Linked DNA regions of Homo sapiens. The protein of the gene in region 2 interacts with the protein of the main gene of each other region in a biochemical or structural test. Each region holds a gene or a part of one and is shown on either strand. Other genes may lie near its edges. The genes, in order: FEZ1 and RAI14.

What was found.
Region 1: the proteins of RAI14 (region 2) and FEZ1 form a complex in vitro, tested with the Homo sapiens proteins (one study listed by BioGRID).

What each region holds. Positions count from the first base shown.
Region 1 is NC_000011.10:125,489,625-125,493,454, forward strand, and holds part of FEZ1 (fasciculation and elongation protein zeta-1), read right to left. Parts: intron 199-3,830; 5' UTR 154-198; coding exon 1-153. UniProt on the Homo sapiens protein: May be involved in axonal outgrowth as component of the network of molecules that regulate cellular morphology and axon guidance machinery.
Region 2 is NC_000005.10:34,827,288-34,830,509, reverse strand, and holds part of RAI14 (ankycorbin), read right to left. Parts: intron 779-3,222; coding exon 713-778; intron 1-712. UniProt on the Homo sapiens protein: Plays a role in actin regulation at the ectoplasmic specialization, a type of cell junction specific to testis. Important for establishment of sperm polarity and normal spermatid adhesion.

The DNA.
Region 1 (3,830 bases), on a different chromosome or scaffold from region 2:
GGAAGAAAAATTCTCAAGCTCGGAGAGGGAGGGGTCCTCGAGATGGTGGGGAGATGAACCATAGAAACACTGGGGCTTCTCCTCCGGGTCCTCCGAGCAGGAGGGTCGAAGGTCCTCAAACTCTTCATCCAGACTCACCAGTGGGGCCTCCATTCTTGCTCAGCAGGAGAACAACAGCGACTTTCAGGATGAGTTTATCTAAAAGAAATGAACAGCGTAATGTGAGTTTAGACCAGGCTAATCTAAATAATAGAGTTAACTTTAGAGACACACCTGCTTCCAATTCCCTACTCCAAAAAACAAGGCACTGGTTAAGTACGAAGCTCCTGGACAAGATCGTCTAGGTTTGCATTCTGTTCTGTCCTACCAGCTGTGACCTTGGGCAAGTGATTAATTGCTCTGTGCTTCTTATTCTTCTCAAGACAGATATAATACTGAACCCACCTCAAAGGGCTGTTAGAAGACTAAAGGAGTAAACACAGGTGAGTGCTTAAAACAGTACCTGGAAGATAATAAGTGCCAATATTATTGAATACTTTCTGTTGGTGTTTTAGTATTATTATTTTTATTACTATTACTATTACCACAGATCCATATCCTTAACTATGTGATCTGAAAGCTGAAAATTCTCCATGACTTGTTTGGCAGCAAAATGTGACATGATCTAAACTCATCTGGCAACTAAACATGACCAACATGAATATAAAGCTGTTCATGGCTTTAATTTATCCCATTTTGTGTGTTTTGCTGCAGAAATATTAACTTTTTAATTACAAAGATTGCTATCCCAGATCCCACTGGATGAAATGCGGAATGTACACTCTATTACTACTTTCCAAAATCTGAAATAATCTGAATTCCAAATGCCTGGCCCCAGGGGTTTTGGATAAGGGTTTGTATACCTAGATATTACTACCCTTATCAATAAATAGTAGAAACTAATAAAACATTGGCTGGATGTGGTGGCTCATGCTTGTAATCCCAGCACTTTGGGAGGTTGAGGTGGGAGGATCATTTGAGCTCACTCAGGAGTTCAAGACCAGCCTGGGCAACATAGTAAGGTCCCATCTCTATTTTTATTTTTTTAAAAAAACTAATAAAACATCAATAGAGACCTTCCAATAAATGCCTGAGTTGTTTTTGTTTCGTTTCGCTTTTGAGACATAGCTTCACTCTGTGGCCCAGGCTGGAGTGCAGTGGTGTGATCTCAGCTCACTGCAACCTACACCTCTGGGTTCCACCAATCCTCATGCCTTGGCCTCCCAAGTAGCTGCGTGTGCCACCACACCCAGCTAATTTTTGTATTATTAGTAGAGATGGGGTTTCACCATGTTGGCCAGGCTGGTCTCGAACTCCTGACCTCAGGTGATCTACCTGCCTCAGCCTCCCAAAGTTCTGGGATTACAGGCATGAGCCACCGTGCCCAGACAAGCACCCAAGGTTTTCCCACACATAGAGCATATGCCTAGGAGCAGAGGAATAGACTAAATGATCTATTATCCTGTATCCTGTAAGAAACAGACCCAACTACCCATGTGCTCCAAAGCCATACTCCATAACCATCTTGGGCACTGCACCCTGGAACGCTGCACACACAGAACTCCCTTCAGTTCCCACCAACTGTGGGACCTCTACCCCTCATCGGGCCATCTTCATGCACTGCTTCCAACTGTGATTTATCCATCTGTGTGTACATCTGGGCCCCATTCAATTTTAACTTAAATTCCTCGAGGACACAGAAATCCTCTGGATATCTTCCCTGGCTCCAAATATACACTGCCTACCCTGTGGCTAGGCAGTCAATCAATATGTGCTCGTTGAAAAAATGATCTATCTCCCACATACAGTTTTCCATTTTCAGTTTCAGGCAGCACAAGCATTGCTGACTATCATACCCTTCTCTACACGCTCAACAGAAAGGCTACCAAGCTTTTCTCTTCGGTCTATAGGGTTATTGATATAGTTAGGTGCTCAAATTGGAGGCGCTTCCTGAGGGGAACCAGACAGCAAAATTCATGGATTTTGCCCTAGGAGTGCCCATTCTCCATCTCTACCTACAAAACTAAAACTCTAAATAAGCAAGGCAAAGGACATGCCAGGCAAGAACACTGCCAGTTTGTACCGGGATTTTGCTGGGATTAAGTTGATTACCGTTGCTTTAAAACATATTTGGAGCATTTACAGTTTGCAAAGGCAACATGATAGGACCTTTGAATACAAAAATATATACAAGTAGTACCATATCTTGGAAAGAAGACAGGCTCGAGAGCCAACAGATCTGCCAATGGCTGGCTGAGTGACAAGCATCATTGGTCCTGATTTCCTCATTTGTTATAAGGAAGGTGTTGGTACAGAGTTAACATCTTTAGGAGTTATTTTTAATAAATCAATAATTTAATTAATCATTTTGATTGAAGTAATATGTTTATTTAATCCAATATATCCAAAGTGTTACCATTTCAAAATGTAATCCACAAAAAAACTAATGAGGCAGTTTTTATTCTTTTTTTATACTAAGCCCTTTGAAATCCAGTGTATATTTTCCATTTACAGTACATCTCACTTTGGACTAGCCACATTGCAAGTGCTCAACAGTCAAATGTGGCCTGTGGCTACCGCAAGGGACAACACAGCTCTAAAGCAAACACAAGTAATTGCCAGTCAGGGGTTCTTCATCTTCAGTACATAGACCCCTGCAGGCTCTTTGAAGGTAACTATATTTCAATGAAATTGGTTTCCTTTACAAGACTAAGTATTTTATTTTATGCATTTAAAAACATTATTTGGAGAAGGAGCCCACAGGCTTCTCCATACCACCAAAGGAGGTCATAGTGCAAAAAAGATTAAGAATCCCTGAGCAACAAAAAAGTGAGATTAGAAAAGATGGCAGAATGCAGTAGAGAGTAAAACAGTTTTCACAGCCCAGGGATTTGTGTTGATTAAGGCAGTACTCTGTGATGGCTAAGAGCATAGGCTTTGGGTTCCTGTCCTGGTCCTGTCACTCCTAGTTGGGAGACTTTGGGCAAGTTATCAACCTCACTGTGCCTCAATTTCATCATCTATAAAATGGAGTTTAAAACAGTGCTTCCCTTGAAGATTACTTTTTGGACTAAATGAGATCATCTTTGAAGTGTTAAGTACAATGTGCAGAATATAGAAAGCATCCAATAAATATCAATCATTCTAGAAAAATCAAAGCTGGGCACGGTGGCTCACACCTGTAATCCCAGCAACTGGAGAGGCTGAGGCAGGAGGATTGGTTGAGCCCATGAGTTTGAGGCTATAGTGAGCTATGATCACACTACTGTATGCCAGCCTGGGTGACAAAGTGAGACCCTATCTTTAAAAAAAAAAAAAAAAAAGTTAAAAATAATTCTAGGAAAACCAGGATAGCTAACTTACATAGAAATGTGATGTGGGGGCTGGGCACAGTGGCTCATGCCTGTAATCCCAGCACTTTGGGAGGCTGAGGTGCGTGGATCACCTGAGGTCAGGAGTTCAAGACCAGCCTGGCCAACATGGCAAAACCCTGTCTCTACTAAAAATACAAAAAAAAAAAATTAGCTGAGCATGGTGGCAGGTGCCTGTAATCCCAGCTACTTGGGAGGCTGAGGCAGGAGAATCGCTTGAGCCCAAGAGGCAGAGGTTGCAGTGAGCCGAGATCATGCCATTGCACTCCAGCCTGGGCAACAAGAGCGAAACTCCATCTCAAGAAAGAAAGAAAGAAAGAAAGAGAGAAAAGAAAGAAAGAAAGAAAGAAAGAAAGAAAGAAAGAAAGAAAGAAAGAAAGAAAGAAAGAAGGAAAGAAGGAAAGAAGGAAAGAAGGAAAG
Region 2 (3,222 bases):
CCTGCCTTTATCCAGCTGGAAGATGAGGTGGCAGTGTCTACCAAAACCCTCAGCAAAAGCTATCTGGGGTCTCAGTTGCAAATGTGAGTCCAGCAGCCAGAACACCAAGCATCATAGAGCCAAGGCAGCACTGGTAACTAAGAAGATCAGCATTGCTGGAAAATAAAGCCCCCGTCTTCCCAGTGGAGGACCACATCATCCCTCATTCCTCAATAAATGATGGGAGGGTGGGGCATGGTGGCTCATGCGTGTAATCTCAGCACTTTGGGAGGCCGAAGCGGGTGGATTGCTTGAGCTCAGGAGTTTGAGACCAGCCTGGGCAACATGGCAAAGCCCCATCTCTACAAAAATACAAAAATTTGCCAGGTACGGTGGTGGGTACCTGTAATCCCACCTACTTGGGAGGCTAAGGTGGGAGGATCACTTGAGCCCGTGGGTCGAGGCTGCAGTGAGGCGAGATTATGCCATTACACTCCAGCCTGCATGACAGAGTGAGGCCCTGCTTTAAAAGATGGGGCTGTTCCTGGTAAACAGGGCACAAGGCTCCTGACACAGAATCCAAAGCAATGCAAAAGGCATATTCAGGCTTTCCAGTGAAAAGGATTCTCCTCTAATTCTTGTTCATTCTCCTAGTTAAATGATGGGAGTTCTGTCAACATCTGCTGCCGTATTTCTTTAGGATGTCCAGATACTTCAAGGGGCATAACCATACCTGCACAGCATACAGAAGATGCATTCTGTAAACTGATATGACCTCCTGGTGTTGTTTCTTGCATTCCTAGAAAGGGAATATTTCACATTATTAATGAGCTTAAGAGATCTTTAAAGAACAAAAACAAAAAACTATGAGAAAGCTGCAGCCAAATGCTACCCAAGTGGTCCCCTCCACTTTATGCTAGCACTGGAAGCTTCTAAAATTGTTGTGGCCTTACTGGCTTGTGTATTTCTGAATACTTGTCAATCATCTTAGGGAAAAAAGTCTTGGTATGTCAACTCTAGAAAAAACTGTATAAAAAGGAGTTATTATCACCCCACATTTGGTTTTAAAAATATATGCTCTTTGGGCGGCTGAGGTGGGTGGATCACTTGAGGTCAGGAGTTTGAGACCAGCCTGGACAACATGGTGAAACCCCGTCTCTACTAAAAATACAAAAATTAGCCAGGCGTAGTAGTCAGTACCTGTAATCCCAGCTACTCAGGAGGCTGAGGCAAGAGAATCGCTTGAACCTAGGAGGCAGAGGTTGTAGTGAGCCGAGATCACGCCACTGCACTCCAGCGTGGGTGACAGAGCAAAACTCTGTCTCAAAATATATATATATATGTGTGTGTGTATGTGTGTGTGTGTGTATGTGTGTCTATATATGTGTGTATATATGTATATATGTGTGTGTATATATGTACATATACTTATGCAAATACAGCTACATTAAATGTAAATACTGCAAGGAAATATATCAAATGTAAAAAGTGATTATCTCAGAGTTATTGAATTATGGAAAATTTTTATTTATAGGAACTTGTTAGAGTTTTCTTTATTTTTCAACTTTTCTACAATGACCAAATATGTACTAATTTAATTTTTAAAGCCTATTATTTTTAAGGGAATTATTGATTACCCACTATATGGCCAGCATTGTATAATCCTTGGGGAGCTCAATTATTTAGCTATCAGTGTACTAAGAAGGCAAAGAGGGTGGTGGCCCCAATCTCCAGTGGTTCCTCAATACAGCCGCTGATGCTTCTATTTCTCCTTGTTGAGCTATTACTCCAGTTCCTCTCAGTGGCTGTTTCAAGGGTCTTATCTCTGAAACTCTTGTTCTAAGAACCTGTCCTCCTAATTCATCATGAAAATTGAGACCATCATATATGGATTACTTCAAAAATGTACAAAAGTCCATAATACCCATTCTTCCTTCCCCCCATCAGTGTCAGAGTATGAGGTATCTTTCCTGTTATTAAGGGACATTTTAAAACCCGTCCTTTAAGTTCACATCATAAGAAGGCACATTTGGCATTTCTCTGTGTTGTTCCCTCCCCACCTTTCAGCAACCTCTACTCAATTATTTATGATTTTATCTTCTGATCTGGCTTCCTTTCTATCACTGCCTCTGTCATCATTCGCTTGGCTTTGATATCTGTGTGAATGATCCATCTAACACCTGGACCTCTCAGTTCCTCAACTTCAGCTTTAATAACATGCTCCTCTTCAGTTCAGCAACTCCTGTCATGGTTGTAGCCCTGCCTCTATCATTACCACCTCTGAAATCTCAACTGAAAGCATCCCACACCCTAACCACCACTTCCCATCTTTCCAGCAAGCTTGCTTCAGGCTTCCCCCAACCCCTACTGCGACTGGTTAGCCCCACCAGATACCTATCTACTTACTTACTTCTCTAGCAGCCAGTCTACTGCGGTCCAGATTCTACCCTCCTCCCCACTCCACTGGAATGGTTCTCACCAAGGTTCCCAAAAGCCAGCTAGTGCCATATGTCAGTCCTTGCTAAGTAACAACATATTCTTACTCAGGCCTTCAAGACTCAGCACAAGTGTAACTCCCGTAGGAACCTTTTCATGACTCAGCAAGATTGGGTAGACACATTTCCTTTGTATGCCCACGGTATGCTGGGCATCTCTTTGCTGATAACTTATATAGAGTATAAACTCCTTGAGGGCAGGGACTGAGTCTTACTCATTTTATATCATCAGCCCCATGTATAATACTGATGTAAGAGCTCAACAAACACATGTTGCGTAATTATAAGAATTACTGTATAAACCAATAGCACTTTATCTACAAGTCTGTAATACCATTTTATCAGGAGAAGAATGACCTGCAGAACACAGTAAAGAGCAGCTTCTCCTAAGTATCCACCATTTCTAGAGCTGTTTCCTCCAAAGCTAGCATTGAACTTTGTGGCCAGCCAGAGTAAGGACTGCAGAAACCTGAATTCACTACAGTTAGGTCTATTCCGAAGAAATCATCAAATCCATGTTCTGTTTGTATATGGAAGCTAGAGACAGTCCAGGACAGACTAACCCTGGACTTTAGGTAGAAAACGGAATGTACCCATGCCAACTCAAACCTTAACAGATATTGTGGTAAGCTAAATAATGGCTCTTGAAAGATGTCCACATCCTAATCCCCAGAACCTGTGAATGTTAAACTTTATATGGCAAAAGGCATCTTGCAGATGAAATTAAGGGTTTGAGATGGAGAGGGAG